3 linked regions of the Homo sapiens genome follow. Changing the gene in region 2 together with the main gene of any one other region gives a genetic interaction. Each region holds a gene or a part of one and is shown on either strand. Other genes may lie near its edges.

Region 1 (3,727 bases), on a different chromosome or scaffold from region 2:
ATTTTAACACAGGTCACCTCAGGTGACAATAACAAGAAGAATGACATTAAAGCTGTTTCTTTTTCCAGGTGATTTTTATGGACTGTTAACAGATCACTTATGCTTACTATACTAGTAGACACCCCATGCAACTCCTAACATCCTGAATAATTGCAGTGATAAATTGATGTTATGTCAACCTAAAAAGCATGAAGCCAAGCAAAGGAGTTAATCTCTTATTTTTTCATTTGATCCAGTAAGGTGAAAACTGAGGTTTTTCAGTTTCCTTATGATTTGCCTGCTTCTCCAAGATTGTTTACAATACTTACTTCTTTATATAATTTTTCTTAATTTCTTTCCCTAGAAATTTCCCTATCAGGAAATCCTTTAAGTTTTCTGGGTTCTCATGTTCCTAATAACTGATCATAGTGCTCTTCTCTTTTATAGGAACAGGTGACGTGTCTGATGTTGGCCTAGGGAAGGGACGGTACTACAGTGTAAATGTGCCCATTCAGGATGGCATACAAGATGAAAAATATTACCAGATCTGTGAAAGGTATGGCAGTAACACTAGCCAGTAATAAGTGGATTGCAGTTCTGTAGGATGAAATGGCCCCCATCTCACAATGTAAACAAGAACAATGTAAAAAAGAAAACATCTATATACCTATAAAGCTTTTGTATACTGGTCATTATGCTTATTTGATCAGTAGCTATCCGCTGTATGGCAGAGCCAAGCAGTTGGACCAGAGCCATGCTCCAGGTTGGATCTTACTCAATATGATTAAGCCCATCCCAAGAGCAGAGCTTTTTTTGCTATCCTGAAGAATCCCTTATTTGCTACTTTCTTAGCTAAATAAACCTACATGTGTCTTATTTCATTAACCTGGCAGGGTTCATTTCAGTTGTCAGGGTTCATTATGGAGACCTGTGCTTTCTTCTACTGGTGTAAATATTAGAGAATTGACTATTATTATTCATCATGCATTCTTACCTTCTATCCACTGTGTTAAAATTGGAGTCAGATACCTGTTCTTTCTACACCATGGCTAAGGATTAAGTTACAGACAATCGTAGACAGACAGATTGGTGCCAATGTGTGGACCACTAGAGTTGAAAAGCCTTATGGAATGGGGGTGGGGGGTTGTGTTAAACTCATATTCATAAAAATTGAGATTGGTCAGGCACAAGTGGTGGCAGAGAAAGCAAATCCGAATAGAAGTCAGCCAGTCAACATTACTGAAGGTAAGTAACGGGGATTGAGGTACTCTTGATCCCTCCCCAACTTAGCTCGTATTTCTCCCAACCTCTGGTGGAGGTTCTTCCCAAAGAAGCCTGCCTGCACTGGCCATCATCACTGGCAGTTGTATAAACAAAGCAGAACTATTAAAAAATAAAAACTTTATGCTTCAAAAGTGCTTCTTAGCTCAAGAGATTTGGTGAGCCAAGTCATCATTCAGTTATTCAGCAGCATAAGCCTCTTCATAATTTTGATCATGTCTCCTGGCTACCTCTGTATTATCATGCTGAAAAAACTTTTTTTTTTTTTTTTTGGAGCCTGCCATCAATGGTTTAATTGCCCTTCTTTGTTCCCCTTAAGCTCTCTTCTGTCCTTGAGATGTGCAGATCAGAGCTGCTTATGTAACTTTACCAATAAAGATATCCTGCAGTTCTATGTAAAAGGAGAATTATTTTGTTTTTCTTTTAATCCCTTTCTTAACAGTGCCTGATTTTGTTACCCTTTTTTTTTTTTTTTTACCATAACAGAAAACTAGGTTGTTCTCTTCAGTGCACTGTCCACAGTGTCTCCTCGAGCCCTTTCCTGGGTCTTAATTGAAAGGTCAGCACTCATCATCCAGCAAGTATAGTTTGTAATATCTAGTGCTCCCTAGATGGATCACCCTAAATGGATCACCTTACATGTACCCCTTACAAAGCCCTAAATGGATCACTTTACATGTGCCCCTATTGAAGGTTATCTGCCAATCATAAAACCTCCTGAGATCTTCTTTATCTCCCATCAACTTGGCATTTCACTGCCTGGGAAAGCTGAGTATTATCTGTAGACTTGAGGATTTTCCAGTGCCCACCCCCAAGGAAGTCTATTTATCCTTCTTCAGTCAGAAAAAATATCTGTTTCTACCCTATATTTTCTCTTTTTTTTCTGTAGACCAGTTCCTACTACATGATAAAAAATATTTTAAATCCCATGGTAATTCATGTTTAAAAATAGCCTTGGTATCAAACCTAATCAGAAGCATTTTTAAAGTAAGTTTAGCCCCAAGGAAAAGATCTGTAGAAGATTACACATGATTTCGCTTTACAAAAAGCATGATGCCACCCACATCCCAATAGATTGATGGCTTTTGTGTACAGGAGGCTAGCATTTATTAAAAATTCTTCCAGCTTGCCTACTGAAGAACCAGACACTCATCAGTTTATAGTTCCCAGGGCCCCTTTGCCTGTGGACCCACATTGGCAATGCAAGCCACACAGTGATCATCCAGAATAACAGGTTCCAGGTTTTCATTAGAGGTATAATAATTTTTTTTCTTTGCTTTCCTTCAGAAGTCAAGTCTGGTCAGGGCATTATGTGAAGGCACCTCTGATTCCAAGGGTACCAAGGAGGCTTCCTGGCCCAAACATCTCTCCTATCTGTTGGATTAATACCTGAAATTCCTTTAACAGGAAACATACTTTTATTCTACAATTAGAAATAGTCCTTAAAACGAAATTTTGGCACAACCTCTCATCCTCACCCCTGCTGTACTATAGAAGTATAGTTTCACAGAACCTTTCTTTTTTGGGGTTGTGGACAGGGTCTTCCCCTGTTGCCCAGGCTGGAGTGCAATGGCATGATCACAGCTCACTGCAGCCTTGACCTCCTGGATCCAAGTGATCCCCTTGCTTCAGCTTCCCAAGTAGCTGGGGCAAACAGGCACACGATACCACATCTGGCTAATTTAAAAAAAAGAAACTTTTAGTAGAGATGAGGTGTAGCTTCACAGTGCCATTCTTGAGAATGAATTGTGAAAGGGTCAGAGCATGAGCTCCTTGAGTATTCTGAGGAGCAGGAATTGCCTAGTGGAGCAGTAGAGGGAAAGGGGTACCAAAAACCACAGCGATCTTTGCCAAGAGTTTTGCAGAGGGCCAGCCCTGGTAACTAGATCACTCAGTCCCAGGCATTATGCCTTTGAATACTTCTGGTATGTGGCTTGGAAACAGTCTCTTACACATTTGCCATTGTTACCTCTGACCCTTCTGCCTACCTCAAAAGATATATTACACAGAGGAATGGCTTAATCTTTTTGTAAAAAGTCATTTAGTTTATCTACTATCTTCTTTTCATCCTTTTATTTTATTTTATTTATTTATTTTTATTTTTTTGGAGATGGTGTCTCACTCTGTCGGCGATCTAGGCTCACTGCAAGCTCTGCCTTCCGGGTTCACGCCATTCTCCTGCCTCAGCCTCCCCAGTAGCTGGGACTACAGGCGCCTGCCACCACACCCGACTAATTTTTTTGTATTTTTAGTAGAGACGGGGTTTCACCGTGTTAGCCACTATGGTCTCGATCTCCTGACCTCGTGATCCACCCACCTCGGCCTCCCAAAGTGCTGGGATTACAGGCATGAGCCACCACGCCTAGCCCCTTTTCATCCTTTTTATTTCATGACCCCACTGGTTCTCTGGCTCACTCCTTACTTGTGATGTGTAAAGGACCTCTTATTGCTGGTTCACTTATAAGAT
Region 2 (3,500 bases):
CTCAGGCTCAGGGAAGAATCTATGGCAAACTCAAGGAGGAGAACTTCTTTGGTCCCAAGGAGGAAGTGAAGCTGGAGACCCACATACGTGTGCCAGCATCAGCAGCTGGCCGGGTCATTGGCAAAGGTGGAAAAACGGTGAGCTGTGAGGGCCAGGTTGAAAGCCCTGGGCCTTGGTCTCCAATCTCAGCAGCTCTCTCTGGTCTCCTGTACTGCTCAACCTCAGGACTCCTGATTTGCTCATTTACTTGATTCTACTCCCCAAGCTCAGGTCCTGACTCTTCCAGGTTCTCCCCACTAGTCACCCTGGCTCCTCCCTCCAACCCCACCCATGCTTTCTTGATGGCACCCTGAGCTCCTCTCTGGCCACCCCCAGGTGAACGAGTTGCAGAATTTGACGGCAGCTGAGGTGGTAGTACCAAGAGACCAGACCCCTGATGAGAACGACCAGGTCATCGTGAAAATCATCGGACATTTCTATGCCAGTCAGGTACATATGGTGCTCCCCCATTGAGGGAGGGCTGCAGGAGCCCAGGGAGCAGAGAAGCAGAGACTCTATAGAGGTTGACCTTCATGACGTTGACAAGTCCTGGGGCCTCAGCCACATCTGCCTGCCTCTAGGCTAGGTTATTGCCCTCTTTCAGGTGCAGAAGTGGGATGTGTAGATGACATATTACCTCTTATTACTCTCTAGGAAAAGTGATTTGACAAGTTTAATGTACATATATTGTGTATAACATTATATATATAAATAACATATATATGAATATATATTATATGTAAATATATATATATATGTTCTACGTTAGTCCCTCCCTAACCCCTTTCTGCACTGGTTAAGAAAGAAGATTAGTTTTGTTCATGGAATAATGATAACAGTACTAACACCCTGGATTGATGGCATTTTTGAAATGTAGTCCCTCTGCCTTTCGCAGAATGGCTGTTCTCTCCCTGGTTTCTGCTCTTCCACCCTCCCATTCCTTTCCCAGAACTCATCATTGCCGTTCAGCACTCGGACAGGCTCCAGAGCATGGAAGGGAAGGCCAATATCAGGTTCAAATTTTGCTGAACCTCAGCAAGGCAAGCAAACAGGTGGTTGGCAGCTAATGGTGTTTTCCTAAAGTCTTAAATCCATCATTGTTAGAACTGGAAAGGAACTTTGGAGACTGTTGATCACAGTTCCTACAATTCATAGAAGATATCCAGATCTTAGCAGGCTTGTGGTCTGCTGGGGCTGCTAGAGCAATTGGGGCAAACTGGCTCTTGGTTTTTTGGCTTCCAGTGCCCATATAGTATAGCATCAAGTATGAAGGTTTTGGATCCAGGGAGCTTTGACCTCAAACTTCACATACATAGCCTTTCTGCTATGTGACCTTGGATAAGTAACTTTCTCTGATAACCCTTTGAGAAGTATTAACAAGAGGCTTTAGTTACATCTCAACTATATATATATATAAAATAACAAAAAAGTATTAATAAGAGCCATAATAATAATAATATCTAAGATTTATCGATGCCTTTGTATACCCAGCACTGTTTTATGTGGCTTATGTATATTAACTCATTTAATTCCCACAACAATTTCATTTTATAAATGAAGCTTAAGAGGGTAAATGTGAATCTTTAATTCAGCGTTTTTTTTTTAAAGAGAGTAAAGGATACCTCCAAAGATGCATAAAGCCAGGATATATTAATATTAAACACTGAAGCAATTTTAGCTGATCAGAATGAGAATTAAATGAAAAGCTATGTAAAACATCAAGCCAGGGTTGATGGAGTTGGACCTCTTATTGACTTACACATTATTTTCCCAACCTAGATCAACTTCCTCTTTTTTTTTTTTTTTTTGTGACAGGGTCTCGCTCTGCCATCCAGGCTGGAGGGCAGTGGTGTGACCACAGCTCACTGCAGCCTCTACCTCCCAGGCTCAAGTGATCCTCCCACCTCAGGCCCCCCAAGTAGCTGGGACTACAGGCAGGTACCACCACGCTCAGCTAATTTTTGTATTTTTTTGTAGTGATGAGGTTTCACCATGTGGCCCAGGCTGGTTTCAAACTCCTAGGCTCAAGTGATGTCACTGCTTCAGCCTCCCAAAGTGCTGGGATTACAGGCATGAGCCACAATGCCCAGCCTCAGCTGCTTCTTTAACCAGGAAAGGAAGCACTCATTTATGGAAAGGAGACATTCTGGTCTTCATTCTATGAAGTGAATCCCATTTTGCAGTTTATTTCCTTTATAAAACTTTATTCTTAGGGAAGAACCTTTTAAGAAGGAAATAATAAAAGATTGGGTATTTTGTCCATTTTTACAGTGAAGCTTATGTATTTATGCTTTTTGACTAACCCATATCTGGACTTTATTTTTTATTTTTACTTTTTTTTTTTTTTGAGATGGAGTCTCGCTGTGTTGTCCAGGGTGGAGTGCAGTGGCACAATCTTAGTTCACTGCAACTTCCGCCTCCCCTGTTCTAGTGATTCTCCTGCCTCAGCCACTCAAGTAGCTGGGATTACAGGCGCACGTCACCACGCTCGGCTAATTTTTGTATTTTTAATAAAGATGGGGTTTCACCGTGTTGGCCAGTCTGCTCTCGAACTCCTGACCTCAGGTGATTCACCCGCCTCAGCTCCCCAAAGCGCTAGGATTACAGGCATGAGCCACCGTGCACCTGGCCATATCTAGACATATTATTCCTTTTCCTGGGGTATTAAAATGAAGCGTGGATTTGTGATGATGTCTTCTAAGTTACGACCCTCTACAACAGGAGTCCCCAAACCCCGGGCCACGGACTGGTACCGGGCCACACAGCAGGAGGTGAGCGGCAGACGAGTGGGCATTACCTCCTGAGCCCCGCTTCCTGTCAGATCAGGGCGGCATTAGATTCTCATGGGAGGGCTAACCCTGTTGTGAAGTGCTCGAGGGATGCGCAGTGCATGTGAAGGATCTAGGTTGCACACTCCTTATGAGAATCTACTGCATGCTGATTTGAGGTTTCATCCTGAAACCACTTCCCCACCCCCACCTCCATCCGTGGAAGAAAAATTGTTTTCCATGAAACCAGTTCCTGGTGCCAGAACAGTTGGGGACCACTGCTCTGCAATATGTAATATATTTCTGCCTAGAAACTCTAGGCATTCTGTTTTGCGTTTGGTAATGTTTATCAACTTTGTCAAGTTTTAAATTCTGATGAATGGATTGATACTACTGTTTCTCCTTCCTTCAAGTCCCCCAACCCCATCTCCCACTTAACACCCACCACGTTTGCTGTATTTTCCAGGGGATACTCAGGCTCCACTGGAGGCAAAGAAATGTAAGGTCACCCCAACCCTCATTCTTCCTCTTTATCTTTCTTCTGAGTCCTGTGTGACCTGTTCTGTTTATTGCCTGTGTCTGGACCTGATGACCTCTCTTCCGTGGAAGGCTGTCTCCTTGGAGGTCTCACACCCACTCTCTTGCCTGTTCTTGCTGCAGATGGCTCAACGGAAGATCCGAGACATCCTGGCC
Region 3 (3,827 bases), on a different chromosome or scaffold from region 2:
CAGGTTGGGAGGTCTCAGGCAGGGGACATGGAGACTGGTGAAAATGGGAATAACCACCCCTTCCATCCCCCAACATTCTTTTCCCCCAGTTACCTGCCATACTTGGGGGCTGTATCCCCTGGACTGGTTGGTGGCAAAAGTGTAAAGCGGAAGTCACCAAGTTCACTGGTGTGCCCACTGATAAACTTCAACTGCCCCTTGGCCCCAACCTCTGGTAGTAGGACTTCCTTGCCATCTGTCACCACATAGAAGAACAGGGAGACCAAAGGGAGGGCAGAAGTACCTGAGTCCTGAGTGACCAACGAGGACAGAAAAGAACAGTGTTAGATTGGCATTCTCTCTTGAATTCCCTCTTGAGAATCAGCCTTAGTGAGGGAAAGGAACAGTAGGCAGGGGTAATGTAAACAACATACGTCTGGCAGTAATGAGGGTCACTGAGGGTAACCAGGTACACCCAAGCGGGATGAGATAAAGAGCCTTGCACTGGGTGCCCTGGGAGATAACAGTATACTTTTGTACTATGTCCTACACTAAGAACTCTACACAGTTGATTTCATTTAATTCTTTTTTTTTTTTTTTTTTTTTGAGGCGGAGTCTCGCTCTGTCGCCCAGGCTGGAGTGCAGTGGCGCGATCTCAGCTCACTGCAAGCTCCGCCTCCCAGGTTCACGCCATTCTCCTGCCTCAGCCTCCCGAGTAGCTGCGACAATAGGCGCCCGCCACCACGCCCAGCTAATTTTTTGTATTTTTAGTAGAGACCGGGTTTCACCGTGTTAGCCAGGATGGTCTCCATCTCCTGACCTCATGATCCGCCCGCCTCAGCCTCCCAAAGTGCTGGGATTACAGGCGTGAGCCACCGCGCCTGGCTTTTTTTTTTTTCTTGAGATGGAGTTTTGCTCTTGTTGCCCAGGCTGGAGTGCAATGGCACGATCTCGGCTCAGCGCAACCTCCACCTCCCTGGTTCAAGCAATTCTCCTGCCTCAGCCTCCCAAGTAGCTTGGATCACAGGCATGCGCCACCACGCCCGGCTAATTTTATATTTTCAGTAGAGACGGTGTTTCTCCATTTTGGTCAGGCTGGTCTGGAACTCCTGACCTCAGGTGATCCGCCAGCCTCGGCCTCCCAAAGTACTGGGATTACAGGCGTGAGCCACCGCGCCCAGCCTCTTTTTCATTTAATTCTTACAGTCCTGTGAGTTAAGTGCTATTATTATCTACATTGTACATTTTACAAGCAAGGAAATCAAGGCTTAGAGATGGTAAATAGAAATGGTTATACAGGCAGTTGTTTAAGGCAGGATTTAAGCCAGGCAGCCAGAGCCCACTTCATGCTGCATTTGCTGGCAGCAAGGGAAGGATGGAGGGGGTCTGGGCTGAGAAAAGGGTGTCCTGAGGCCCTGACCTGAGGCTCTACAGTCACTCTCCAGCTCCAGTCCCCTCCGTGCTGACCCCCAGGCCTCTTGACGAACTCAGTGGTGAGCCTTAAGGCCCCATCCTGGATGTGTTGGCGCCCGAAGGAGAGGCCGTCGTGGAACTCCCAGCCATAGGGACCCACACCGTCCCCCTGCTCACACGTGTGCCTGAGCTTAGGAGTCCCCGGGGTGGTGCCCTGCTGCGCCCACATCAGTCCTGGGGGTAGAATGGCCACGTAAGTCAAAGAGCAGGGGACCTGTCCCTCCGGGTCTCCGGGTCATCCCTCTTCATAACTCTCCTGATCCATTCCTTCCCACCCTTGCTCTCGCTTCAAGCTGGGGCGCCCAGATTAGGAGTCCGCCTGCCTGCCCGCCCTGGGGCCCGGTTACCGGTGAGGAGGGGCTTCGGGCTGCGGGTCTTCATGCCGAAGTAGACGTGAGGGCGGTAGGTTCCCCAGAAGAGGTCCGGGGCCACGGCGGGGCTGGAGGAGTCGGCAGGCAACACAGGAGGCGCGGAGTGCAGCGTGACCGCCCGCCGCGCACGGTACCACGCCAGCACCCAGCGCCCCGACATACCCAGGGCCAAAGACAGGACCACGACGGCCAGAGCCACTCCTCCAGCCGTGCTACGCGGCCCGCCGCCCCGGCCGTCCCGTCGCCCGGGGCCTCCCCGAGCCGCCCTCTCGGCTGTCCGCACTCCCTCTGCCGGCACTGCGCGGCGCCGCCGCTCGCCCCGAGCCATCCTGGCACTGAGGTCCGCGTCACAAGAGCTCGGAGAGGCGGCAGTGGAGCCCGGGTCCTGCCTCACCTCTCCGGCTCCCGCCTCTCGCCCTGGCGACCACCGTCCGGTTAGCGACACCTGCCAGCCAGCGCCTGCGCCTCCGCCTCCGCCTCCCGCCGGAAGTCCCGCCCCGCCACGTTAGGTTAAGTCCCAGAGTCCGGAACCGCTGCCTGCGGCTTGACACAGGGTTGGTACGTAGCGTCTGTCCTGGGCGTTGGTCCACCGGGATTGCGTTTATCTGGCGACCCCATGGAGTTCACAGGCTCGGAAAAACCAATCTAACGTTGGGCTGAGGCATGAGAATCGTTTGAACCCGGGAGGCGGAGGTTGCAGTGAGCCGAGATTGTGCCACTGCACTCCAGCCTGGGCGACAGAGCGAGACTTCGTCTCAAAAAAAAAAAAAAAAGACTGATGTGGCCAGGCACCGAGGCGCACATCTGTAATCCCAGCACTTTGGGAGGCCGAGGCAGGTGGATCACCAGACATGAGGAGTTGGAGACCAGCCTGGTCAACTTGGTGAAACCCCATCTCTACTAAAAATACAAAAATTAGCCGGGTGTGGTGGTGGGTGCCTGTAATCCCAGCTATTCGGGAGGCTGAGGCAGGAGAATTGCTTGAACCTGGGAGGCGGAGGTTGCAGTGAGCCGATATTGCGCCATTGCACTCCAGCTTGGGCAACAAGAGTGAAACTGTTTCAAAAAAAAAGAAAGAGAGAGAGAGAGAGAGATGGAGGGAGGGAGGGAGGGACGGAGGGAGAGAGAGAGAGAGAGAGAGAGACTGATGCTTTATGCAACACGACCACTTATATTTCACTATAATCTGACTGGTGGCCCCACTCTCCACTAGTGGTAGACTTTTTGCTTATGAAATCATCTGACCAAACCCAATGGTTAGTCCTGTTTTTGTCTTTCTTGCTACCGTTGCATTTGTCGACATCCTTATTGTAGCACTTATTACATACCTGTTTCATTTTTCATCTTTGTATCACAGTACTAATCAATTATAGGCATAAGGCAGATGCTAAATATTTATAAATTCAACACATGTTTATTGTACACCCTATATCGCATTATGCAAGGTGCTGGGGACTCAGAGAAAATGGCCCCAACCTCAAGTTCACAGTCTAGAAGCACAATGCCAGCACTCAATGCATGTTGAACCATACCCATTTTTTTTTTTTTTTTTTTTTTGAGACGGAGTCTCGCTCTGTCACCAGGCTGGAGTGCAATGGCATGATCTCGGCTCACTGCAACCTCTGCCTCCAGGGTTCAAGTGATTCTCCTGCCTCAGCCTCACGAGTAGCTGGGATTACAGGTGCCCACCACCACGCCCAGCTAATTTTTGTATTTTTAGTAGAGATGGAGTTTCACCAGGTTTGCCAGGCTGGTCTCGAACTCCTGACCTCAGGTGATCCACCCACCTCGGCCTCCCAAAGTGCTGGGATTACAGGCGTGAGCCACCGCGCCTGGCCAGACCACCCCCATTTTTACAGATGAGGAGAGTAGTTAAGACTGACCCAAAATAACAGCCAGTTAATTATGGAGCTGGGGAACTCAAATCCAGGTTGTTCTTTTGACTTTAGAATAAGGCCTCTTAGGGCAGGCGCAGTGGCTCAAGCCTGTAGTCCCAGCACTTTG

The links.
Region 1: changes in IGF2BP1 (region 2) and HDAC8 together harm fitness more than expected from each alone (negative genetic interaction), as found in Homo sapiens cells (one large-scale study listed by BioGRID).
Region 3: changes in IGF2BP1 (region 2) and MOGS together harm fitness less than expected from each alone (positive genetic interaction), as found in Homo sapiens cells (one large-scale study listed by BioGRID).

What each region holds. Positions count from the first base shown.
Region 1 is NC_000023.11:72,485,741-72,489,467, reverse strand, and holds part of HDAC8 (histone deacetylase 8), read left to right. Parts: intron 1-426; coding exon 427-535; intron 536-3,727. UniProt on the Homo sapiens protein: Histone deacetylase that catalyzes the deacetylation of lysine residues on the N-terminal part of the core histones (H2A, H2B, H3 and H4).
Region 2 is NC_000017.11:49,045,885-49,049,384, forward strand, and holds part of IGF2BP1 (insulin-like growth factor 2 mRNA-binding protein 1), read left to right. Parts: intron 1-5; coding exon 6-137; intron 138-375; coding exon 376-489; intron 490-3,467; coding exon 3,468-3,500. UniProt on the Homo sapiens protein: RNA-binding factor that recruits target transcripts to cytoplasmic protein-RNA complexes (mRNPs). This transcript 'caging' into mRNPs allows mRNA transport and transient storage.
Region 3 is NC_000002.12:74,463,097-74,466,923, forward strand, and holds the start of MOGS (mannosyl-oligosaccharide glucosidase), read right to left. Parts: upstream 2,287-3,827; 5' UTR 2,152-2,286; coding exon 1,800-2,151; intron 1,627-1,799; coding exon 1,400-1,626; intron 291-1,399; coding exon 94-290; intron 1-93. UniProt on the Homo sapiens protein: In the context of N-glycan degradation, cleaves the distal alpha 1,2-linked glucose residue from the Glc(3)Man(9)GlcNAc(2) oligosaccharide precursor in a highly specific manner.